Homo sapiens: one gene and its partners. The protein of the gene in region 1 purifies or fractionates together with the protein of each later gene. This does not show direct contact. Each region holds a gene or a part of one and is shown in the gene's direction. Other genes may lie near its edges. The genes, in order: MIDEAS, AVL9, KSR2, NDUFA10, ZC3H3, SSU72 and DPM1.

What was found.
Region 2: the proteins of MIDEAS (region 1) and AVL9 purify together in Homo sapiens (affinity purification with mass spectrometry; one large-scale study listed by BioGRID and IntAct). This does not show direct contact.
Region 3: the proteins of MIDEAS (region 1) and KSR2 purify together in Homo sapiens (co-immunoprecipitation; one large-scale study listed by IntAct). This does not show direct contact.
Region 4: the proteins of MIDEAS (region 1) and NDUFA10 purify together in Homo sapiens (affinity purification with mass spectrometry; one large-scale study listed by BioGRID and IntAct). This does not show direct contact.
Region 5: the proteins of MIDEAS (region 1) and ZC3H3 purify together in Homo sapiens (affinity purification with mass spectrometry; one large-scale study listed by BioGRID and IntAct). This does not show direct contact.
Region 6: the proteins of MIDEAS (region 1) and SSU72 fractionate together in Homo sapiens (co-fractionation; one large-scale study listed by BioGRID). This does not show direct contact.
Region 7: the proteins of MIDEAS (region 1) and DPM1 purify together in Homo sapiens (affinity purification with mass spectrometry; one large-scale study listed by BioGRID and IntAct). This does not show direct contact.

Annotation. Positions count from the first base shown.
Region 1 is NC_000014.9:73,718,804-73,722,303, reverse strand, and holds part of MIDEAS (mitotic deacetylase-associated SANT domain protein), read left to right. Parts: intron 1-794; coding exon 795-1,007; intron 1,008-2,802; coding exon 2,803-2,999; coding exon of another isoform or gene 3,000-3,003; exon of another isoform or gene 3,004-3,295; coding exon 3,296-3,461; 3' UTR 3,462-3,500.
Region 2 is NC_000007.14:32,568,489-32,571,988, forward strand, and holds part of AVL9 (late secretory pathway protein AVL9 homolog), read left to right. Parts: intron 1-1,531; coding exon 1,532-1,666; coding exon of another isoform or gene 1,667-1,678; intron 1,679-3,500. UniProt on the Homo sapiens protein: Functions in cell migration.
Region 3 is NC_000012.12:117,755,991-117,759,490, reverse strand, and holds part of KSR2 (kinase suppressor of Ras 2), read left to right. Parts: intron 1-3,500. UniProt on the Homo sapiens protein: Location-regulated scaffold connecting MEK to RAF. Has very low protein kinase activity and can phosphorylate MAP2K1 at several Ser and Thr residues with very low efficiency (in vitro).
Region 4 is NC_000002.12:240,001,343-240,004,842, reverse strand, and holds part of NDUFA10 (NADH dehydrogenase [ubiquinone] 1 alpha subcomplex subunit 10, mitochondrial isoform 1 precursor), read left to right. Parts: intron 1-3,500. UniProt on the Homo sapiens protein: Accessory subunit of the mitochondrial membrane respiratory chain NADH dehydrogenase (Complex I), that is believed not to be involved in catalysis. Complex I functions in the transfer of electrons from NADH to the respiratory chain.
Region 5 is NC_000008.11:143,464,948-143,468,447, reverse strand, and holds part of ZC3H3 (zinc finger CCCH domain-containing protein 3), read left to right. Parts: coding exon 1-66; intron 67-169; coding exon 170-239; intron 240-2,599; coding exon 2,600-2,731; intron 2,732-3,500. UniProt on the Homo sapiens protein: Required for the export of polyadenylated mRNAs from the nucleus. Enhances ACVR1B-induced SMAD-dependent transcription. Binds to single-stranded DNA but not to double-stranded DNA in vitro. Involved in RNA cleavage.
Region 6 is NC_000001.11:1,572,064-1,576,178, reverse strand, and holds the start of SSU72 (RNA polymerase II subunit A C-terminal domain phosphatase SSU72), read left to right. Parts: upstream 1-1,315; 5' UTR 1,316-1,621; coding exon 1,622-1,701; intron 1,702-4,115. UniProt on the Homo sapiens protein: Protein phosphatase that catalyzes the dephosphorylation of the C-terminal domain of RNA polymerase II. Plays a role in RNA processing and termination. Plays a role in pre-mRNA polyadenylation via its interaction with SYMPK.
Region 7 is NC_000020.11:50,938,033-50,941,532, reverse strand, and holds part of DPM1 (dolichol-phosphate mannosyltransferase subunit 1), read left to right. Parts: intron 1-323; coding exon of another isoform or gene 324-428; intron 429-574; coding exon of another isoform or gene 575-599; coding exon 600-668; intron 669-3,500. UniProt on the Homo sapiens protein: Transfers mannose from GDP-mannose to dolichol monophosphate to form dolichol phosphate mannose (Dol-P-Man) which is the mannosyl donor in pathways leading to N-glycosylation, glycosyl phosphatidylinositol membrane anchoring, and O-mannosylation of proteins; catalytic subunit of the dolichol-phosphate mannose (DPM) synthase complex.

The DNA of each region.
Region 1 (3,500 bases):
TAATATTTTCCTTTAAGTCAACTCATTTTTTACTCAGAAGGGAAGTTTTATATCACAGTGATAAATAGAAAACCAAGGTTGTGTGCTATAAATAGAAGGTACTGGTAAAAATATATGTGAAAACCAGTATTACTGAATTCTAGCTAGATGCTGTGTTACCTGCCAAGGCTGAGACTGAGGGCTGACCTTGCTTTGTTAAAGAGATTATCAAGTCTAGAGAAGTATAAAAGACACATTAGCAGCAACCAGAGACTGAGTCCTTGGCATAATCAGGATTGAAAGAGAATTAAAAGGGAAGGTTACTTAATCCTATGTCCATGTATCCACCTAGCATCATTTTTGGGATTGCAAATCCACGCTTGGTGACATGCTACGGTAAGACAGGGAGTGGTTTGCTGCCCATTTTGCAGGCAGGAAGGTAGTAGAGCTACAGAAAGCATTACAAAGATAGTTTGGAATTGGAACTCAAGGCTTCTGCCTGGCTCACCACATCATTGCCGAGGATGCCTCCTGGTCATCTGTCCAGGAGGATGGGTGGCAATGGGGAGTGACTGGTATGTACCCTCCTTGCCCCTCGTTCTCTCTCAGGTGCTCCCAGGGCTTGAGACTCTTCTGTCCCCATGGCTACTATGCCATGGGGACAGAGTCCAGAGTCCTAGTACAGAAGACTATGCTGGGCCAGCCAGGCGAGCAGGACTAGCTGGGGCTGGTGAACCCCCCGGCCGGGTCAGAATCTGTGCTACAGCAGTGAGACAGAGCTCTAGGCTCACTGCCCTTGTTCTTGTTCCCCATAGACTTCCCAAAAGTTCCCAAGGGTGCCTCTTCCCAGAAGAGAGTCCCCAAGTGAAGAGAGGCTGGAGCCCAAGAGGGAGGTGAAGGAGCCCAGGAAGGAGGGGGAGGAGGAGGTGCCAGAGATCCAAGAGAAGGAGGAGCAGGAAGAGGGGCGAGAGCGCAGCAGGCGGGCAGCGGCAGTCAAAGCCACGCAGACACTACAGGCCAATGAGTCGGTGAGTGTGACCACCATGGGCTGAGCCCAGGGCAAGCAGGGTGGAGCTGGGCCTGGGGGCGTGGGAGGGAGGGTAGAGCAGGACTGTGATCCTCATTATAATCATAATAGCAGGAAATGTGTGAAGTACTTTGTGCTGTTAACTCATTTAATCCTCACTACCCTATGTGGTTAGGTATTACTGTTATTCCCATTTTATAGATGGGGAAATTGTGGCCCAAGATAACACAGCTAGTAGGCAGCCTGAATCCAGAGTCTGCGATTAATTTTTATACTCTACTGCTTCTGTATCTGAGATTCAGAGGGAAAAAGGTTTTGTGAAAACCCAGTAGGTATGTGGGTCACTGAGGGAGCATTGGTGGTTTGCAGACAGGGCTCCCCTAAGAGAGCCAGAGTCCCTGACAAGAATGAGACTGAGCTGAGACCATGGGAATGACAATCATAGGCCCTCAGGCATGATCTCTGCAAAGTGCTTTCATTTCCATTATCTCATTAGTTCCTCACACTGCAGAGTTAACCTCTACTCTGCAGATGGGGGAAAGCAGTTCAGAGATGCTAAGTGACTTGCCCCAGGTCCTTGGACTCCTAGTGCAGTGCTCTGTCCACCATATCACAGGCCAAGAAACAAGACTACTGGCCATAGTTGCTCCTTGCCAGGGAGAGTTCTCCCAGAAAGGGGTAAGGAGGGGAAGGGGTTTATTGGGGAGCTGCTGCTTTTTTAGAGTCTTTTTTTTTAGAAATGTATGTAGTAGGCCGGGCGCAGTGGCTCACACCTGTAATCCCAGCACTTTGGGAGGCCAAGGTGAGTGGATCACCTGAGGTCAGGAGTCGAGACCAGCCTGGCCAACAAGGTGAAACCTCATCTCTATTAAAAATACAAAAACTAGCTGGGCATGGTGGTGCACGCCTGTAATCCCAGCTACTCCAGAGGCTGAGGCAGGAGAATCACTTGAACCCAGGAGGTGGAGGAGGCGGAGGTTGCAGTGAGCCAAGATCATGCCACTGCACTCCAGCCTGGGTGACATAGCAAGACTCCATCTCAAAAAAAAAAAAAAAAAAAAGGAATGTGTGTAGTACACTCATGCTTACAGAGCTCCCATAAACTGTAAACACACGGCTGTGTGCCCACTTCTGAGCCTCGACCACCTGCACCAAGAGCTGTGCTCTGTGTAGCGCTCTACAGAGTTCTGTTGACTTTTGTGAACTTTCCCATGAGGGTGCCACTTCTGATGGCCACCCGGGGCTTCCCCAGCCGAGGTCACCTCTGCTCCCTCTGCTCTGCACTCTGACCCCTGCCCTTGCCCTGTTTGGTGTCCCTGCAGTGCGCTGTCCTGAAGTAGCTACCTGCGCATCTGTCCCTTCCACCAGATCCTCAGCTCTGAGGGCAGGGATGCCTGTGTCAACCTCTTTGTCCCTAGCATCTGGCCCATCACAGGGGCCTGAATCTCATTTATAGAACAGGGCATGAGCGGACTAAATGACAGAAAACATCAACAGGTAGGTGCTTCATTAACCCAGAGACCAAGATCCCCTGTCAGGCGCATCAAGGCCTCTAGCAGCTCGGGCTGCCCCACAGAATTACTCTAGCAGCAACTTTGTAAACGATAGAGCTGACCAGAGATGCAGAGTTGGAGGAGGCAATGGTCGTCATATCCCTGGAAGGACCCAAGTGCATGCTAGGTGACTGTTTGGCAGGAATATATATGACTTTTCAGGCCCCCGGTTCCCTGCGATTTTAGAATTCCAGATCTGCGCTTGCTCAGATCACTCAACTCTCCTTGTTTGATTTTCTTCAGGCCAGTGACATCCTCATCCTCCGGAGCCACGAGTCCAACGCCCCTGGGTCTGCCGGTGGCCAGGCCTCGGAGAAGCCAAGGGAAGGGACAGGGAAGTCACGAAGGGCACTACCTTTTTCAGAGAAGAAGAAAAAAACAGAGACATTCAGTAAGACCCAGAATCAGGAGAACACTTTCCCCTGTAAAAAATGTGGCAGGTAAGGTGGGCAGCGCTGTCCCCGCTGGGACCCCCGCGGGCTGGTGCGCGGAGGGGGCGGGGGTGGGGTGGAGGGGAGGGGGAAGAGGTACAGGCGGTGTCCGCCTCGTTTCTGGTTGGCTCAGCGGGTTTCTAGGGCTGTGACGTCATGGGGCAGCTTTCGGAAAATGACGCGAGCTGGCCGGCCGCGGCTGTGCAGCGTGGGGGTGAAGGTGAAGGCTGGGGCTCCTCGCGCACCCGCGCTGGGGGCCCCCGGGTGGGCTAGGCCGGTTCTGAGCAACCCCCACCCGGCTGCAGGGTGTTTTACAAGGTGAAGAGCCGCAGTGCGCATATGAAGAGCCACGCAGAGCAGGAGAAGAAGGCTGCAGCGCTGAGGCTGAAGGAGAAAGAGGCCGCTGCTGCCGCCGCCGCCGCCCACCAGCAGGCCCTGCGGGAGGAGAGCGGTGCGGGCGACAAGGGCTGAGCGCGGGAGCCAGGCTGGCCCAGTCCTGGGCCTCGGCCC
Region 2 (3,500 bases), on another chromosome or scaffold:
CCATGCCCAGCCCATAATATTCTTTGGAGATGAATATCATCACTGTTTATGGCTGCAGGTTCATTGTATGGATGAACATTTATTTAGTCCCCTATTCATGAAGAGTTTGGATTCGAGTTTTTTGGTATTGCATTTATTTTCATAAATATAATATCACATATGATATAATATTTGTAGGATACTGTAGGATAAATTACAAGTAGAATGCTGGGCCAAAAGGCATACATATTTATAAATTTTTAAAGGATTTTTAAACATTTCTTGAAAGCTTTGACCTACTTTTTAAAAACATACTTTTTAGTTTTGTTATTATTATGAAATATAATACTGATTCTGAATGAGGAGCCTGGGTTGAGAAGCTCTATACTGAGCATCTCTAATGCAAAGGTATAGATTTATTTTTGCTGCTTCTGTTAGGGTCTGATCAAGCAACAAAAGACATTTTCAAGAGTAAGAATATAACCAAATTACCAGACATATATTCCAACTTTTGGAAGTCTTCCCTTTCATGTTAAGTATTTAACAACCACCTGTTAGTTACACACAAAGCGCTCTCCTAGTTGGAATAAAGAATATCAAGTTGCAAAGCGGATATCCCCTGCCTTCAGAGAGATTTGTCTCATGATGTAAACACGATATTATCCAGATGACATAATTCTGTGTTTTAAAAAGTGATGAGATGTAAAAAAATAAAACTTATAGAACTTGAGGCTGAAAACAAGTTGAGGGGCTCAGTGAGTCTGCCTTCCTGGCTGTATATACAAGTCATGCCACTTGTTGAAAACCCATTCTGATTTAGAATCTTTCAGCAGAAATTGCATATCTTCCTTCAGTCAATCATTCCAGTGTTAACACTTGTACTCTCAGGAAGTATGCTGGATTTTTTCTATACTTAGATGCCTGCTGCAGTTTAGCAATTCCACTGTAATTTTTGGAGCAATGCTGTTTTCAAATAAAATTCAAATGGAAATTAATTAAATACACAGATACTACCAGTGTCATTTTTGCTTTAAATATTTAGTAACAAATATCTTGAAATCTTTTTGCATGATTTTTAACATAGGACGGTATAACAAATGCTATGTAGTACCTTGCTGTTCTCCTAATAGTGCTTCGGTGGTTATGTGCAGATGCATGTATTTTAAATTTTTAACAGCCTTCTACTAAACAACGTACTTACTAACAGGCTTAATGCTTCATTTCCTAAGTGAAAAGGTTCAATTCATTAGTTACTGTGGAGACTTTTAAATTGAATGAGAACAAAGTGATCAAGAAAGACAACCTTCATATTAAACCACCTTGCCAAGATTTGACCATTCATGGAGACAATTAGCTAATCATTAACTGGACTTACTGTAGTCAAGACTTGAAGTTCCCCTGGAATATTATTTTATTGAGTCAAAGATTAGCTGACTTACAGACAGGGCAAGGAAGAATGGAAGTTTCTTTTCCTACTGTTAGCTCACTAAGTTTAAAGAGAAAGGTAACCTTTTACTTTTCTGATATTTTCTATTACTCTTCTAATTCATAGGGATATCTGTGTTTGCCTTACATGGCATTGCAGCAGCATCATCTTCTCTCCGATGTCACCGTTCGGGGGTTTGTTGCTGGAGCTACTAACATCCTTTTTCGACAACAGAAACACCTCAGTGATGCCATTGTGGAAGTACGTTTATGTGTGAGTGTGTGTATTTGGCCCTGCTCATCCCAGTTTTCCTTTCTTAACTACAATTATGAATACATAGTAACAACATTAGTAATGATAATAACTGCATACTGTATGCCATGTATTCTAAGTATTTTATGTGTATTAACTGGTCTAATTCTCATAAAAACACAGTCAATAGCACTGTCCTATCCACATTTTATACCTGCAGAGGCTAAGTAACAGAGAGATGAAGTGATTTGTACAATATCAAACAGCCAGTAAACAGGTAAACCAGGATTCCAACCTGGGCAACTGGGCCTACCACTACCTCATGATTTTTAACATGTGTTTGTTGTTTAAGTAATTTCAATCCTTCTAGCCTGTTTAGAATGCTCTTGATACCAAGACGAAAGCTAGGAATAAATATTTGACATCAATATATACGAAATTCAAATCATTTGTTATTTTACAACTGAAATAATCTTTTTTCTTTTTTTTTTTTGAGACAGTTTCGTTCTTGTTGCCCAGGCTGGAGTGCAATGGCGCGATCTCGGCTCCATGCAACCTCCACCTCCTGGGTTCAAGCAATTCTTCTGCCTCAGCCTCCTGAGTAGGTTGGATTACAAGTGCCCGCCACCACGCTCGGCTAATTTTTTCTATTTTTAGTAGAGATGGGGTTTCACCATGTTGGCCAGGCTGGTCTCGAACTCCTGACCTCAGGTGATCCACCCACCTCGGCCTCCCCAAGTGCTGGGATTACAGGCGTAAGCCACCGCGCCCAGCCTGAAATAATTTTTGAGAAATTTTATGAGGCTCGGCGCAGTGGCTCACGCCTGTAATCCCAGCACTTGGGGAGGCCGAGGTGGGTAGATCACCTGAGGTCAGGAGTTCGAGACCAGCCTGGCCAACATGGTGAAACCCCATGTCTACTAAAAATACAAAAAAATTAGCCAGACATGGTGGTGCATGCCTGTAGTCCCAGCTACTCGGGAGGGTGAGGCAGGAGAATCACTTGAACCTTGGAGGTGGAGGTTGCAGTGAGCCAAGATTGCACCACTGCACTCCAGCCTGGGTGACAGAGTGACCCTGTCTCAAAAAAAAAAAAAAAAAAAGCCAGCTGCAGTGGCTCAAATCTGTAATCCCAGCACTTTGGGAGGCTGAGGCGGGTGGATCATGAGGTCAGGAGTTCAAGACCAGCCTGCCCAACATGGTGAAACCCCGTCTCTACTAAAAATACAAAAATTAGCTGGGCATGGTGGCAGGTGCCTGTAATCCCAGCTACTTGGGAGGCTGAGGCAGGAGAATCGCTTGAACCCGGGTGGTAGAGGTTGCAGGGAGCCGAGATCGTGCCACTGCACTCCAGCTTGGGCGATAGAGTGAAATTCTGTCTCAAAAAAAAAAGAAGAAAAAAAATTCACCCACACTAAGGTTTTTGTAGTTTCTGACAGAAAGTATGAAAACATGTTTCTTGGGTGAATGGTTATAATATAATGAAAGTCCAGGATTCAAAGATGTATTTATTATAATCCCAAATTTGAAGAAGAAAAAGTACATTTTCCAAGACAGGAGGATACAGATGGGAGGACCATAAAGCTGCTTCAACATTATTGGTTACATTCTAGTTCTGTAGTTGGTTGGTGGGTGCGTAGGAATTTTTTTTATTATTATACTTCAAAACTAACCTGTACGTTACATGTATTTTTTAGTATATCAAATATTACATAATAAGACATTCTAAAGTATCTGGCCGGGCACAGTGGCTCACGCCTGTAATCCCAGCACTTTGGGAGGCCAAGGTGGGCGGGTCACAAGGTCAAGACATCGAGACCATCCTGGCTAACATGGTGAAATC
Region 3 (3,500 bases), on another chromosome or scaffold:
ATTATGTATATTTTATCACCATTTTAAAAAGGCAGGATTCTGTAAGTGAAGGGTTGGCACACTTTTTCTGTACAGGGGCAGATAGTAAATACTTTAGGCTTTGCAGACCATTCAGTCTCTGTTGCAGTTACTCAACTCTATCATGTAGCACAAAACCAGCACAGACAATAGGTAAACAAATGGGCATGGCAGTGTTCCAATAAAACTTTATTTATAAAAACAGGTACCTGGCCCAATTTGGCCCATGAACTGTGATTTACCAAGCCCTGTCTGAAGCCGTAGTGTAGAGAGTGATCTCTTTTCTGAAGCATTGGGAATGCCCTACAGTGATTGACGTGGAACATGTGATTTTACAACAGTCATATTTAAGCTGCTATGTGAAACCTAGCTTGAAGACGTAGAATGCATGTTTGAGACCTCTGAGGGTGAAGCAGAGGATAGATGCTTTTCTGATTGGAGTTGTGTTTGATTTGCATGGTTTTGTGAGAGCCACAGAGATTGGGGCCTGCTGAAACCTCAAGGTGAAGATGTGGGGTAAAGTTCCAGGAAGGCTGGGAGTGCAGGTTGCTAAGGTGGAGGGTGGAAGAGGCATTTGGGGTTTGGTTGCTACGGTGGCCCCACACTTTGTGCTTCTCCCTGTCCCTTTCCCAGGGTGCACCACTTAGTAAGGCGAAACTTGATCAGAAAGCCGACTCTCCAGACACATCATCTTCTAATCTGCAAGATGGAGGCCAAGTGAGAGAGGCTGCCCTTTGGTTTTTAAATGCTGTCCTTTCCCTAGACCCCTGAAGGATTTATTCTGCCTGGATAGGGTTGAATGGCCCACTTCTTCAAGGCCTTCCAAATTGACTTGGCCACCTTTAGTGTTTTTTGGAATTTGTGTATCAGGACTCAGGTGGCGTTAAGCTTTGCCCTTCAGGTTTCTTCTGGCTGAGTTAGCAAGCTCATCACTTCCTCAAGGCTGGTAGTTCCCTGGCCCACCTTGGGGGATGCTGTGGTTCATGGCAAGGAAGCAGTAGAGGAGAGGAACAGAGTGGTCAGTTTGGTGATGTGGAAAATGCCGTGGGACCACTTAGCCTGGGACCATGCCTCCAGGTTCACAGGGATATCAGGGCAGCAGGCCTGGGGGTGTTAAAAAAACTAAAACATAAATAACAGCAACCTGAATAATGTTGGCAGCGGGGGTCATGGGTAGAGGTGAATTCTGATCAGGATTTATAAAGGAGGCGTTAGTTGAGGTGAGTCCCAATTATTAGACTGATAACAACAGTCATCATTTACCTGGGTCTAAACTAGTCCTGATCCTGCCAGGAAGTAGCCTTTTGACCTTGGATTTAACCTCTCTGAATCTTAGCTTTCTCAGCTGTGGACCCAAGAGGTTAGAATACATTTGTGTTTTTAAATTTGTGGTCATGACCCATTTGTGGTTGATAGCATTATTTTAATGGCTTGTGACCAGCATTAAAAAAATGAAATAGACTAGCCTAGACTAGAGTATATTGGAACACATTGCATCTGGTAAGCGTTTTAGTGTTGTTTTGTAAAACTTGTTTTCAGTAAGTACAGGCATACTTCAGAGATATTGTGAGTTTGGTTCCAGACCACCACGATAAAGATCCCAAAGTGAATGACACGAATTTTGGGTTTCCCAGTACATAGAATAGTTATGTTTTATACCATACTGTAGTCTATTAAGTGTATGATGGCATTATGTCTTAAAAAACAATGTACATACATTAATTTAGAAATACTTTAATACTAAAAAACACTAATGATCATCTGAGCCTTCAGTGAGCCATACTCTTTGCTGGTGGAAGGTCTTGCTTCAATGTTGATGGCTGCCGACTGATCAAGGTGATGGTAGCTGAAAGTTGGGCTGATTGTGACAATTTCTTAAAATACAACAATGCAGTTTTCTACATAGATAGACTCTTCCTTTCACAAAAAATTCTCTGTAGCATGTGATGCCGTTTGATAGCCTAGTAGAACTTCTTTCAAAATTAGAGTCGATCCTCTCAAACCCTGCCACTGCTTTGTCAACTAAGTTTATGCAATATTCTAAAATGTTTCTTGTCATTTCAACAATGTTCAAGGCATCTTTACCTGGAGTGGATTCCATCTCAAGAAACCACTTTCCTTGCTCATCCGTAAGAAGCAACTCCTTGTCTATTTAAGTTTTATCATGAGATTGCAACAATTCAGTTATATCTTCAGGCTCCACTTTTAATTCTAGTTCTCTTGCTGTTTCCACCGCATCTGCAGTTACTTCCTCCATTGAAATCTTGAATGCCTCAAAGTCATCCATGAGGGTTGGAATCAACTTCTTCCAAACTCCTGTTAATGTTGATATTTTGACCTCCTTCCATGGATCACGAATGTTCTTAATGGCATCCAAAATGGGGAATCCTTTCCAGAAGATTCTTTTTTTTTTTTTTTGAGATGGAGTCTCACTCTGTCACCCAGGCTAGAGTGCAATGGAGCAATCTCGGCTCACTGCAACCTCCACCTCCTGGGTTCTAGCAATTCTCCTGCCTCAGCCTCCTGAGTAGCTGGGATTACAGGTGCCCACCATCATGCCTGGCTAATTTTTGTATTTTTAGGAGAGATGGAGTTTCATCATGTTGGCCAAACTGGTCTTAAATTCCTGACCTCAGGTGATCCACCCACCTCAGCCTCCCAAAGTGTTGGGATTACAGGCGTGAGCCACTGCACCCGGCCTCCAGCAGGTTTTTATTTTACTTTTCCCAGATCCATCAGAGGAATCACTATCTATGGCAGCTATAGCCTTATAAAATGTATTTCTTAAATAATAAGACTTGAAAGATAAAATTACTCCTTAATCCATGGGCTGCAGAATGGATGTATTAGCAGGGATGAAAATCACATAATCTGTTTGTACATCTTCATCAGAGGTTTTGGTTGAGCACATGCATTGTCGATGAGCAATAATATTTTGAAAGGAATCTTGTTTTTTCTAAACAGTCGGTCTCAACAGTGGGCTTAAAATATTCAGCAAACCATGCTGTGAACAAAAGTGCTATCATCCAGGCTTTGCTGTTCCATTTATAAAGTACGGGCAGAGTAGATTTAGCGTAATTCGTAAGAGCCCTAGAATTTTTGGCATGATAAATGAGCATTGGCTTCAGCTTAAAAGTCACCAGCTGCGGTAGTCCCTAACAAGAGAGTCAGCCTGTTCTTTGAAGCTTTGAAGCCAGGCACTGACTTCGTCTCTCTAGCTCTGAGAGTCCTAGATGGCATCGTTGAATATAAGACTGTTTCATTTACATTGAAAATCTGTCATTTAGTGTAACCACTTTCATCAGTGATCATAGCTAGATCTAGGTAACTTGCTGCAGCTTCTCCATCAGCACTTCCTGCTTCACTGTACTTTTATGTTATGGAGACAACTTCTTTCCACAAACCTTATAAGCCAACCTCTACTGGTGTCCACATTTTCTTCTGCAGCTTCCTCACCTCTCTCAGCCTTCATAGAATTGAAG
Region 4 (3,500 bases), on another chromosome or scaffold:
AACAGGGTGGTGAGTAGCTAGGGGTGACAAAGGGCCTCTCTCGGGATGAGGCCTAAGTGAGGCCAGGATTGGGTCCTGTGGGCCGTGGGGTGAGCAGAGGGCAGGGGCTTGGCAGGTGCAGAGGCTCTTCAGGCAGGAGTGTGGTGGGAAGGTGCGCCCAGCAGCCAAGCCAGTGTGGCCAGAAAAAGTGTGGGGAGGGGAGGCCACAGCGGAATGGAGCAGGACTAGGAGAGGAGGCCATGGCGGAATGGGGCAGGACTAGGAGGGGAGGCCGCGGTGGAAGAGGGCAGGACTAGGAAGGGAGGCCACTGCAGAAGGGGGTAGGACTAGGAGGGGAGGCCACAGCAGAAGGCGGATAGGTCTTGGTGCGTTTGGTGGGTTTTCTTCTGATGAGATGAGATGCCGTTTGGGGGTTTGAAGCAGAGGAGTAATACGATATGACTTATATCCATTCAGCTATTGTGTGGATTCTTTGGTATCTATTAAATGAAAAACAAAAACCATACCGATTAGGTAAGGTTGAAAAAAGCTGTCTTCATCTGCACCACTCTATTGAAACTGCTCCTGCCAAGGAGACGGCCTCGCCATTCCAGATGCGGCAGACCCTTGTCTGTCTTCATGCTGCTCCCTGGCCCTGGAAGCAGCACCGCTGCCCCTCTTCTCCACTCCCTTCTCCTGGTTCCATGCCCTCCTCCTCCCCCACTCTCTCACTCCTCCACCAGCTGCTGCCTTCTGGGGCCGGGCTCTCTTTTTCTGGTTCCTTCTGCCTGCTGCTGGGCTCTGGCAGGCACAGTGACCCCGGGCAGTGTCTCGTCCGTTGAATTCAGTTTCTTGAGGACGTACCTAGTCACACAGCTGTGGATAGCGTGGATACCACCGTAGGTCTTGGCCCAGACCTTTACCCTGCACACCCAGCAAATATCCCTCGGCTGCCTCTTGCAGTGTCTCTGTGCATTGACCTTCCCACCGGTGATCCCCAGCTCTGCCTCTTCTGTCCTGGCTGGTGCTGGCCACCCGGGAATCTCATCCTGCTTGGGTCTGTCCTCCACCACCCACCCCCTGCTGCTTCTCATCACTGCAACGCCCAGTTCCTGGTACAGGCCTCATATCCAGCGTGCACTCAGGAGATGTATCTGGAGTGAGTGACTTTGATTTCTTTTAGGGCTATAAATTCTACAAAATTCAGAGATGATTTTGTAATGAGAAGTGCTGTTGTATCATAATTCTGATTATTTATAAATCAAGATTGGAGTAATTTGAGGGTCTTTGACTTGTGAAAATGCAGGAAACATGAGTAGCTATTTGGGGATCTGCCTTTTGTGTTAAGTCTCGAGCCCTTGGCCTGAGCCTGCCCTGTGCTGCTTCCTGCCTCTACCCAGGATGCTCTGTGCAGACTGCACCAACACTTTGCCTCTCGAGGGCCTGGAGGCACAAGGATGGCCGGGGCACTCAACTTCCCTCTCCTCAACGTTTGGATGTAAATTAGGAAGTTGGTGCCTACAGATGGCAGCTCTGTTCTTGGCCCTGTGATGTTGGTGTTCTTAGGCCGTTGGTGCTTACCTTCTTTCTCTGCCTGATGGGATGTGAGTGATACAGTAGTCTCCTAGGATGACCAGAGGGACAGCTGGCTCACTGCACATGTCACTAAAAGTTCACTGATCAAAATGTAAACAGAATGTGTAATAAGTTTACTTCTGGCCAGGCAGCGTTCACGTCTGTAAACCCAGCACGTTGGGAAGCTCAAGTGGGAGGATTGCTGGAGCCCCGGAGTTCGAGACCAGCCTGGGCAATATAGTGAGACCCCATCTCTACAAAAAATTTAAAAATTATCTGGGTATGGTGGTGCATGCCTATAGTTTCAGCTACTTGGGAGGTTAAGGTGGGAGGGTCACTTGAACCTGGGAGGTTGAGGCTGCAATGAGCTGTGTTCACGCCACGGTACTCCAGCTTGGGCGACAGAGACTCTGTCTCTCAAAAGAAGTTCACTTCTGTTTGATGTTTTTAGTACAGCATTAATAAGCAAAAAATAGGTTTACATTAAAAAAAACTAGTCATTCTACTTAGTTTGTTAATTCCTGCCCCCCTGTTAAAATAGTATTTGCAAAATCAGTTTTCTAGTTAGTGGAATGGATACTGAAGGGTGAGCAAGGTAGGCACACTGTGGGGTCCTCATGTCAGACTGAGGAGACGGGAAGGGTCAGGTCAGCCCTTAGCTGGCTGTGTGACTTGGGACAAGTCACTTTATCTGCCTGTGCCTCCATATGTAAGATTATGGCAGTGAGGTAGAGTGCTAGGCCATGTGTATTGAAGGAAAAAACAAATATAAATTTCATATATTATATTCCATATACTGACTACTGTATAAAATGGTGTTAATCTAAAAGTAGCTTACTGAAATGATTGGCTCTCTAGAAAGTCTTTTGAAAGGAATCTAGCAAATCTTCCATTAGAAAGTAAAACAAACAACAAAACCCGCTTTCCTTGTCTTTTTTTTTTTTTTTTTTTTTTTTTTGAGTCAGAGTTTTGCTCTTGTTGCCCAGACTGGAGTGCAGTGGCGCAATCTCAGCTCACTGCAACCTCTGCCTCCTGGTTCAGGCGATTCTCCTGCCTCAGCCTCCTGAGTAGATGGGATTATAGGCATGCACCACTATACCCGGCTAATTTTTTGTATTTTTAGTAGAGACAGGGTTTCGCCATGTTGGGCAGACTGGTCTTGAACTCCTGACCTCAGGTGATCCACCTGCCTCGGCCTCCAGAAGTGCTGGGATTACAGGCGGGAGCCACTGCGCCGGCCTTCCTTGTCTTTCTGAGCCATTACTAGGAGATGGAAGTAAAGCACAAAGCACTGCTTTTGGCCTCTGAATAAATATTCTGCATCCTGGAGACAATGGCCAAGGGTTACAGTGCCTACTCCAGGTGGACAACACATTTCAACCTGAGGGCCGTGAGTTTGCTGATTGACAGGGCGACCGACCAGAAATTAGAGGGGTCCTCTGAGGTGTCTGAATGTAGAAGTTTCTCTGAGTCATTGAAGTCAGCTGATTATTCCCTGTGCAGCCATTTTTGTTGCAAAGTCAGTGTGTGCTTTGCTGTGAACTGTGGCAAGGGCCATCAAACATTGGTTTATTCCGAGTAATTTTAACTTTAGGACAGGGATGCGTAGGTGATGGAGACCAAGAGGAGAAAATAAAAGTATATTTCTGAGAAGAAAATGATTGTTGTAATACCAGAGACTCACCATTTCATAACCAGGTCAGAAGGATCCCTTGAGAGGGACTCAGCCACTCACCTGTCACTGTGCCCCTGGGCAAGGGGCCTAACCTCTCTGAGCCTCTGTCTCCTTGTTGTAAAGCAGGAAGAAAATAGAAGCTACCTCATAGGACTGTTGTGGGGATTAAATGTGGGAATAATTTGAAAGGCTCAGAACCATGTGTATATATCATAAGTACTAAAGTTTTAGGGACTATGTTATGATACTGTTTATGGTATATTATTATACT
Region 5 (3,500 bases), on another chromosome or scaffold:
CAGGTGCAACCGTGGCGAGCGCTGCCCCTACATCCACGATCCCGAGAAGGTGGCCGTGTGCACCAGGTGCCCTCCTGCCCTCGCTGTGGGCCTGGGGGAGGTTCTGTGCAGGGCCCTGCCCTTGGTCCCTGCCGGCCCTTCCTCATACCCGTTTCTCCTGGTGCTGCAGGTTTGTCCGGGGCACCTGCAAGAAAACGGATGGGACCTGCCCCTTCTCCCACCATGTGTCCAAGGAGAAGGTGAGTGCGGCGCTGGTGGCCCTGCTCCCGTGCACCTTTCTCCGGGGCCTCAGCCACCTGGCCTCCGGGCAGATGGTGCCCACAGCTTTCTCTGGGTTTGGGACATGCAGATCCCTGCCCTGGCGTCCTTAGAGTCTGCTGTACCGTCTCTACCCCATTGCAGGCTTTGCAGCTGGGCTTCCTCTTCCCCGGAAAGCAGCGCTGATAGGGTCTCTGCTCACCACGCACAGGGGTCTCTTTTCCCTTCTCCTGGCAGCACCAGGCCTCACCAGATCCCCAGGCCCCCCTTACACATGCCTAGGGGAAGGTGGTCCCACAGGTGCCCCTGTGGACCCAGGGCTGAGGCCTCAGGGCCTCTTCAGACTGGGGTTGGCAGGAGGGGGGAAGCTGTATGTGAGGGGGCTGGGTGGAGAGGCTGCCTGGGCAGAGGGCGGGAGGGAGGGGCTGGAGGGAGAACAGCTGGACTCCTGGCTCATGTGGTTGTCCCCGCGGCCTGAAACCCAACAGACTTGCTTTGAGCCAAGGTGGGTCCCCTGCTGGGAAGCAGCAAGAGAGCCCTGGGGCTGGGGGGGACATGTGTAGCTCCTGTGCCCCGGACTCAGCCACGGTGTGACCACAGCATGCGAGTGGAGTGAGGGCTGCCTTGGGTGAGGGAGGCGGTGTTGGGCAGGGGTGCTGCTGCCGCAACAGCTTTTCCCCTTGAGGAACTTGAAAAGAATCAGCATTTTTCTCCCTAATAGAGCTTCGGAACTCTGTTGTGAGCAATTTGGAAATTCACATCGAGTTTCGGGTTCATTAGCTCCCAGCTCCAAAGCCAGAGCACATTCCAAGCTGTCTAATGTGGACGCCCCGCACCAGTGCCCTGAATTAATGTTATTGTTATTTGTGTGGACGTGGCGGGGTGCAAACAAGGTTAATTGAAATGAGAATGCAGTTTCCTCTTGATAACAGCCCCGCTCTGACAGCCAAGAGGAGCTCCGTTTGCTGTAGAGTTGGCTTTATCATCCCTTTTTATTAGAGCTAATTTGGGCTCTATATCAAAAACCACATTAAGGGAATTGTCTACAGCCCACCACCGCCAGCCCCAAACGGCCCCCAGCCCCTCTCCCCTCTGCGGCTGCAGTTAAAAGACAATTAGAAATAAACTCCCGCTCGTTAAATCACCCTTTGTTTCTTTGCCTTCTCCCTCCCTCCCTCTCAGCCCTGGCCGCTGGCTCTCTGGACCCCTTCTTCCCTCCTTGGCCTTAGACAAGTTCCTTTCCCATCCCCAACCTTGCCCCAGAAAAGTGACTTTTTAAAGCCTCTGGGTCTGCCCAGATCCCCCAGGGCTCCTCAGGCCCCAGCAGCTCTGAGCAGGCTGGGAAGGGGAGGGGGACAAGGGTAGTGGGAGCAGGGAGGGTGGTCTGACCCAGGAGGGAGGAAGGCCCTGGGAGGGGAGCGGGAATAGCCTGGGGCAAGACTGGAGACCCTGGGGTGCTGGCAGGGGCTCTGTGGGGGCTCCATGCTGAGGCTGGACGGTGACATCCTTGTTCTGGACACCCAGGCAGCCCAGGAAGAGCCCGTGGTGGCCCATGAGGGGCAGGGAGATGTCTCCTGGAGATGGCAAGAGACCCCCTGCTTCCCTCCCTGGGTGGCCCTAGCCCAGCCATTGCTCCTTAGGCCTGAGGTTCCCCCAAATGGGAGGAAAGTTACATTTTTTCCCTCTCCCAGCCCAGTGGTGATAACAAGCACTGACTGTGGCCAGCGGCCCTGTGCTGGGGAGGAAGACGCTGCTGGACCCTTCCTGCTGACAGCCTTGGCCTCCACGGTGCTGGCCTGCAGCCAGTGCCACACCAGCCCTGCTTCCAGGTGGCTCCTGCCCACCTAGAGCCCAGGGACACTGCCTGTGGCCCACGGGTCAGGTGCCTGGAGAGGGAGAGCCCTCTGTTGGCTGCTGGCCCGTGGCTCGTCCTCCCACCTAGACACTGGTCCCCATGGCCTGAGAGGCTCCAAGGGCAGCCCTGGCCACAGGCTAGTGGTTGGGAGCCCTGGCTGCCATCTTGCCCTGGACGGTGGGCAGGCTCAGAACAGGTGAGGGACTCAGAGGAGGGCGCCCCTGAGGCTGAGCCACAGGGCTACAGGGCTGCTCCATGCCTCCTCTGGACAGAGCACGGCAGGGGTGTGGCTCACCTGGGGAGGCTGGGGCCCACTTCTGAGCAGCAGCTTCCCTGCCCCGCAGGTCGTGGTGGCTGCCCTTCCTGCCTGCTGGTGCCGCGTGTCCATTTCTCTCTCGGGCGGGGCCGTAGGAGGGTCCCCAGCCACCGTCTCTGGGCCCTGGAGGGTGGCTGCCTGCTGGCCCTCACTGCCGGCCCTCCCTGCAGATGCCGGTGTGCTCCTACTTCCTGAAGGGCATCTGCAGCAACAGCAACTGTCCCTATAGCCACGTGTACGTGTCCCGCAAGGCCGAGGTCTGCAGCGACTTCCTCAAAGGCTACTGCCCCCTGGGTGCAAAGGTGAGTGGTCTGTGGGGGCCCGAGTGGGCGGGGTTCCTGTGGCTTGTTGGTCCTCTGCTCACTCCTGGGTACCTGCCGTGGTGGCTGGATGACCCATCTGCAGCCCTGAGGTGGTCAGTGCCATCACGTCCACCTCACAGGTGACTCAGAGAGGTCCAGCAACTTTCCCGGGGTTGCACAGCACCAACACAGGGCGGGGTTTGAACCATGGGAAGGTGAGGCGCAGAGGACCTAGACTTCCAGGTGCAGCACTGGTAGCCCCAGGAGCTGGCCCCCCATGGTAGGGGTGTGGTGACTGGGCCGGAGCAGCTCCTGGGATGTTGCTGGGGGCGGCAGTGCAGTGAAGGGGATATTGGAGGCCAGGGAGCCCGCAGGGCTGCAGGATGTGGGGCCAGCAGCCTCCCCAGGAAGGCAGGGGGTGGACGGGACACTCCCACCCAGCCTGGGGCAGAGGGGTGGGCCAGGCAGAGCCAAGGGGGCCGCCTGAGCCGTGGCTGGCAAGGGTGGAGTGAGCTGGCGCTGGAGCTCATTGCGGGGCACCACTGCTGGGTGGAGAATTGGGGACCTGGGCTGTAGCTGATGGCTGCGGCTCCCCTCTTCCTAGGGGCATGACTGACTCCTGTGTTGCAGAGGCACTCACAGGCTCACCTGTCTGGGAAGTTCCCGGCAGTGCAGCCAGCTCCTCCCCTCTGCCTCACCTGCCCTCCTGGGCTTCAGCAGGACTCCCCGCCACAAGCAGCGTGGCCTCAGCATCTCCAGTGGGCCTGGT
Region 6 (4,115 bases), on another chromosome or scaffold:
ACAGCTGGGAAAGGCCATGGAGAATTCTCATGAATCAATAATAAGAAAAACTATCACAAGATTCTGCAAAAACCACAACCTTGCACTAAGGCAATCTTACACAAAAAATACTTCAGCAAGGACAGCTGCCCAGCAACTGCCTGTCCAACCCTGGAACGGGAGTACACTTGTTTTTTTTTTTTTTTAGACGGAGTCTGGCTCTGTCGCCCAGGCTGGAGGGCAGTGGCGCGATCTCGGCTCACTACAAGCTCCGCCTCCCGGGTTCACGCCATTCTCCTGCCTCAGCCTCCCGAGTAGCTGGGACTACAGGCGCCCGCCACCACGCCCGGCTAATTTTTTGTATTTTTAGTAGAGACGGGGTTTCACCGGGTTAGGCAGGACGGTCTGGATCTCCCGACCTCGTGATCCGCCCGCCTCGGCCTCCCAAAGTGCTGGGATTACAGGCGTGAGCCACCGCGCCCGGCCGGGAGTACACTTGTTACTGTTCTTTGTAGCCAAGGTTAATTATTTCCAAACCATTATCTTCCTCTTCATTTTTTCTTTAAAAACCATTACTTTCCTGAATGCGCAAATCGTTTACTATGGCACGCATATTCGCCAACGCCCTATTCCCAAATAAATATCATTTTCAGTTAGCCTGTTATTAGGTTGACAATCATTATCACTCCCTCTCCCGTCCGTGGCGCTCCCACGGCAAAACATCAGCCCACTGTCCACCGCGAGGCTGCATCCAGGCAGACAGGCATAGCTGGGGAATGACACACTCGCGTTGACTGGATTTACTGTAACTGGACCCAAATCTCAGACCAGCCGGCGGCCTCTCCAAGGAAGCCCGAGGCGAGGAAGATCCTAGTCGACGTGCACTCCCAACCAGGTCTGTCACAGGTCGGCCCTCGCATTTAAACGTTAAATGTTGAAGGGCTTTCATAAAAGAGCGATGTGCTCCTGCTTGTATGAGCCGGGGCCGGAGGCCGGTAACAGCGGCACGGGACGGGAGCGAGCCTCAGAATGCGGGAATGTCTGTGGGCCTCCGGGACAGTGGAGGGAGCGGGTCTAGTGAAGCGCGACGACTCTGGGGTGGCAGAAGTGAGGACTATGGGCCCCACGGGGACCGAGGGAACGCACAAAATCGTCCCAAGAGACGAAACGCCGGGCCGCGGAAGGGCCCTCAATGCTATCTCCGGCAAGCGCGGCGTTTCGCATCGCTCCCAAAGGCGGCGGCGACACCTTATGACGTCCTGTTGTTCCGCACGTCGTCGCGTCACACTAGGCGCCGGCGCGGGGTGCTGATGTCAGGACGCCGCCGCTTGGCGCCGTGACGCTCAGCCGGGCCTTGTGGAGTGCGGGTCTCTGCTGCGGACGCCGGGGGCCGGCGCGGCGTTGGCCGCCCCCGGCCTCGCCGAGTGCAGCGCGCCCGAAGGCCAGTGCCTGCGCTCCGTCCGCGGCCCGGCGCCCAGGGTGGGCGGGGAGGCCGCCGCGCAGTCGCCGCACGCTACACCGCCGGCGCCGTCGTTTCGCGTCGCCCGCTTCCGGCCACCGCGGCCGCCATTTTGTTCGCGCGGAAGCGCCGCGGTAGGGTGGGAACCCAAGCGGGAGAGCCGCGGGATTTGCGGCCGCCGCCATGCCGTCGTCCCCGCTGCGGGTGGCGGTGGTGTGCTCGAGCAACCAGAACCGGAGCATGGAGGCGCACAACATCCTCAGGTAGTTGGGCTCCACCCTGTCCCCGCGCGCTCTGCTCCGGCGACCGGCCCTCCCTCCTCCCCGGTTCCCCCTGGCCCGCGCCAGGACCCCTGAGAGGAAGCCGGGCCGGGCCGCGCTCGTGGGTCGGCTGGTTGGGATGGCAGCTGGACGGCAGCGCGCGTAGTCCACACGCGGGTGGGCATCACAGGGAAGGCAGGTTCCGGGACGAGGCGCCCGCTGTCCGGTGGTCCTTCGAGCTCTCCGAGGCCGGGCCCGGGGGGCGAGGGTAGCGTCCGCGGCGAGGGGCTGCGCGGCGGCGGCCGATCATGGTATTTCGTGTGCGTCGTTGGCCACCTTCCCTGGAAACGGCGCGCAACACAATCACGGCATACCACGATGTTGTAAATAACAAAGCGGTCTCTTTTTTTAATGCCATGGATTTGTGTGTTTGCTACTTCTTCTTCTTTTTTTTTTTTTGCGAAAGATCCTCTCTTCCTCCCTGGAACGCCTCCAACCGGTAGTTTCTGGAATACAACGTGGACTTGGTTTGGCTCTGCTAGTTTATATTCCCTGCTAACTGGCCGCCTGTGACTCTTGCGTAGCGTATGTCTAATGAAAGTTTATTCCTGCTTGATAACAAGTTTTTTGTTCAGTCACATAGCAAACTGAGAAACTGACCACTTGACTTACAGTTAAAATTTGGTATGTGTCAACTTTGATAGTAAGAAAGTTGAAATGGCTTTTTTACCTCCAAAGTTACCTACGTGAACTTTAAATGAAAACAGTGTTTCGCTTCTCTTCTCGCAGTCCAGCTATAACTTTCCTGAGCAACTTGGGAAAATTAACAGTCCCCCTTTTTTTTCCGTTTTTAACAGTGTCACGTGGGCCAGGCACGGTGGCTCACGCGTGTAGTCCCCGCACTTTGGGAGGCCGACGCACGCGGATCACCTGAAGTCAGGAGTTGGAGACCAAAAAACACCCCCCAAAAATCAGTGTCAAGTGTTCATGATCTGCTGATTCTTTCTCTTTATTCTTTTCTTTCTTTTTTTTTTTTTTTTTTTTTTTTTTTGAGACAGAGTCTTGCTCTGTCGCCCAAACTGGAGTGCAGTAGCGCGATCTCGGCTCACTGCAACTTGTGCCTCCCGAGATCGAGCTATTCTCCTGCCTCAGCCTCCCGAGTAGCTGGGACTACAGGCACCGGCCACCAGGCACGGCTAATTTTTTTTTTTTTTTGTATTTTTAGTAGAGACGGAGTTTCATCATCTTAGCCAGGATGGTCTTGATCTTATGACCTCGTGATCTGCCCGCTCGGCCTCCCAAAGTGCTGGGATTACAGGCGTGAGCCACTGCGCCCGGCTTTTTTTGTATTTTTAGTAGAGACGGAGCTTCACCATGCTGGCCAGGCTAATCTCAAACTCCTGACCTCAGGTGATCTGCCCGCCTCGGCCTCCCAAAGTGCTGGGATTACAGGCGTCAGCCACCGCATCCGGCCAAAGGTTGTTTTTAAAACTAGAAATGTGCTAGAATTACATTGTGCTGGATCTTCATTTATAAACTGCAGTTACCTGTAAAAATTTGATACATTTAAGCAAAACAATGCAAGGCTCACCCCCCCCCCCCCAAGACAAAATTATTGTTAATTGGAATAACAAATGGGCTGGAGACCTTCTGGTTCTGCTGGTTCTCCTTGGTGATCCTTTGTTCAAGATTTTCTGCTGTACCTGCATAACAAAGATGGAGTAGGCCGGGCGCAGTGGCTCACACCTGTAATCCTAGCACCTTGGGAGGCCGAGATGGGCGGATCACAAAGTCAGGAGATTGAGACTATCCTGGCTAACACGATGAAACCCCGTCTCTACTGAAAATACAAAAAAATTAGCCGGGCGTGGTGGCGGGCGCCTGCAGTCCCAGTTACTCGGGAGGCTGAGGCAGGAGAATGGCATGAACCCAGGAGGCGGAGCTTGCATTGAGCCGAGATCATGCCACTGCACTCCAGCCTGGGCGACAGAGCAAGACTCCATCTCAAATAAATACATAAATAAAATAAAGTTGGAGTAGAATATATATTTTTTTTCTTGAGGGGGAGTCTGTAGCCCAGGCTGGAGTGCAGTGGTGCTATCTCAGCTCACTGCAAGCTCCGCCTCCTGGGTTCACACTATTCTCCTGCCTCAGCCTCCTGAGTAGCTGGGACTACAGGCGCCCGCCACCACGCCCGGCTAATTTTTTTGTATTTTTAGTAGAGACGGGGTTTCACCATGTTAGCCAGGATGGTCTCGATCTCCTGACCTCGTGATCCGCCTGCGTGGGCCTCCCAAAGTGCTGGGATTATAGGCGTGAGCTACTGCGCCTGGCAAGATGGAGTAGAAATCTTAACAAAAGGAAATGTTTTAAAAATTCTATTTAGGGCTGGGCGCGGTGGCTCACGCCTGTAATCC
Region 7 (3,500 bases), on another chromosome or scaffold:
ACCATGTGGCCCAGGTTGCCCTCGAACTCCTGAGCTCAGGTGATCTGCCTGCCTCAGCTTCCCAGTAGCTGGGACTGCAGGCACGTACCACCATGCCCAGCTAATATATATAATATGAATATATATATATAATATGAATATATATATGAATATATATAATATGAATATATATGTATATGAATATATATAATACGAATATATATGAATATATAATATGAATATACATATTATATGAATGTGTATATATATTATATGAATGTATTTTATTTATATATATATATATATATATATATATATATATATATTCACTTTTTTTTTTGTAGTGATGGAGTTTTGCCATGTTGCCCAGGCTGGTCACTCCTGGGCTCAAGTGATCCAGCCATCTTGGCCTCCTGGGATTACAGGTGTGAGCCACCGCGCCTAGCCAGGTCTCCTTTCATTGACTAAAAATTTCTATTTTGTTCTAGATAAATAACATTTTTATGAAATTAATGTTACATTTATGAAATTAGTATAGCATTTTAACACTGTTCTTCGATGTGTTTCTCTTGTTTATAAATTGTATTTTGTAAAGAAGATCTGATTGTTTTATTTGGCAGCCGTGGGGCCAATTTTTTAACTCAGATCTTGCTGAGACCAGGAGCATCTGATTTAACAGGAAGTTTCAGGTACAGTGAAAATTTCCACTACTTTTATATAACTTCTTGGCTAACTTTCTTTACAATGGATATTTTAAAGAGACACTTTACATTTCTACCTTGTTTTTATTCTGGGATACTAAAAAGGCAGACTAAAATTCCTAGAAGTTGCTAATGAAGCCTAAACATCTCAAGGAGACATATTGTGCTTTTCCTTTAAAAAGCTGAAGGCAGTTAGGTTTGTGTGCTTGTTAACATTAGTATTAAGGCTCAACTGCTCTTTGGAATGTTGCTATTACTGATAATCTGTTCCAAAGAATAGCATGTACTTAATTTTCTGCATTTCATATGAATACCTACAGCATTGTCTACAGAAAAGGTTAAACTCTTTAATATTTATATAGAGCTCTCTCAGTTACCTTGTTCTCCATATGTTTGAGGAAATTTTTGTTGTTCAATTTGGACAAAGCTTCGGTCCCTCTGAGTTTTGCGTGTCTGTTTCTGGGTGTATGGGGTGGTGGTCTAGATTTGCTGTAGTAGATGTGAGCTGCTTTGTGTGACTGACCATGGCAAATGACAAAACTTGCCAGATTTTTTTTTTTAATCTCTGAAACTATAAAATGCCCCTGCATCTACTTTAGTGACCCCCAAGCCCCCCAAACATTACTTAATAATTTCTACTAGTTGATACTTTTTTCCACTAAATAATGTTGATTCTTGGGTCCTTTGCTTAATGCAGGAAAATCTAGGTCCTTAAATGTGAGAATTGACACACACACACACACACACACACACACACACACACACAAATTAGGACCTGGCTGTTGACAGTCAAAAAGAAAAATGAAGCCTCTCTAGAACTAAAATGCAAATAGACTGGAGAGCTGAACTTGGGGATGAAAGAGAGGGGAGGCTATACCCTAAGGCTAAAGAGTCATTTGTGATATGATTAAGATCTCTGATTGCGGATGGGCGTTGGCTGGTGGATGGGCAGTGGCTTGCGCCTATAATCCCAGCACTTTGGGAGGCCGAGGCATGTGGATCACTTGAAGTCAGGAGTTTTAAGACCAGCCTGGGCAACGTGGCGAAATCCTGTCTACTAAAAATACAAAAATTAGCCAGGTATGGTGGCGTACGCTTGTAATCCCAGCTACTCAGGAGGCTGAGGCAGGAGAATCACTTGAGACCCAGAGGCAGAGGTTGCAGTGAGCCGAGATTGCGCCACTGCACTCCAGCCTGGCGACAGAGGAAGACTGTCAAAAAAAAGCCAGGCATTGTGGCTCACACCTGTAATCCCAGCACTTTGGGAGGCCTAGGCAGGTGAATCACAAGGTCAGGAGATCGAGACCATCCTGGCTAACAGTGAAACCCTGTCTCTACTAAAAAATACAAAAAATTAGCCAAGTGTGGTGGTGGGCCTGTAGTCTAAGCTACTTGGGAGGTGGAGGTTGCAGTGAGCTGAGATCGCGCCACTGCACTCCAGCCTGGGCAGTAGAGTGGGACTCCGTCTAAAAAAAAACAAAAAAAAACAAAAAAGATCTCTGATTGCCATGTGGCAACAATGCAAAGAATAGTGGCACTCACAAAATCTCTGTACAGCGGGAAGGGCCAGTGTGGATTTCACAGGCCACAGTTTTGATGGTTTTGAATAAAAACCTAGGGTAACTGGTAACTAGTTGTGAAGATAGAGGCTGTGAAGAAAAACACAGCAGGGAGAGGAATGGGGTGAGGGTGGTTTGCTGCATCAGAACCATACAAGGATTAGTGGAGGGGATGGGGGTTGAAGGATGGCCTGGGAGTTCTGGATTTTCATGTATTGACAGCAATGATTAGCTGTGTTCTGTATAAATGACAGAGCAGCCAAACAGACAAAAGTGAACCTGTTAATTGCACAATTTTTTTTTCTTTTTTCTGAGACAGGGTTTCGCTCTTGTTGCCCAGGCTGGAGTGTGCAATGGCGCGATCTTGGCTCACCACAACCTCCGCCTCCCAGGTTCAAGAGATTCTCCTGCCTCAGCCTCCCGAGTAGCTGGGATTACAGGCGTGCGCCACCATGCCTGGCTAATTTTGTATTTTTAGTAGAGATGGGGTTTCTCCACGTTGGTCAGGCTGGTCTTGAACTCCCGACCTCAGGTGATCCTCCTGCCTCCGCCTCCCCAAGTGCTGGGATTACAGGCATGAGCCACTGCACCCAGCCCAAAAAATTTTTTAAATAGGCTGGGCGCGGTGGCTCACGCCTGTAATCCCAGTACTTGGGGAGGCCGAGGCAGGTGGATCACAAGGTCAGGAGATCGAGACCATCCTGGCTAACATGGTGATACCCCGTCTACTAAAAATACAAAAAATTAGCCGGGCGTGGTGGCGGGCGCCTGTAGTCCCAGCTACTCGGGAGGGTGAGGCAGGAGAATGGCGTGAACCTGGGAGGCAGAGCTTGCAGTGAGCCGAGATTGCACTGCACTCTAGCCTGGGCGACAGAGTGAGACTCTGTCTCAAAAAAAAAAAAAAATTTTTTTTAATAGTTAAATCTCATTGTCTTCTCATAAGAGTGGTGGTTTCTTAAATACATGCATTAAAGTTCATTTGTCGCTAGACAAAGCCCATTTTTGTCATTAAATCCCTAGATTTAGGAAGAAGGTGCTTTTTACAAAATAAGAAAAGGAATCCTGGAAAGGCTACAGTCAATATAAAGCCATTTAATAGCATAGACCACCTGGATCCTAATCGCATTTATGGGATTATATGGCTTCATGTAACATTTTATTTTACTAGCCACAGTGTTAAAGTTACCATGTGGATGGGGAGGAAGGAGGTGGCAGTGAAAAGAAATATCTTAGAAAATGATTCTTAAGGGGAATAAAGCAA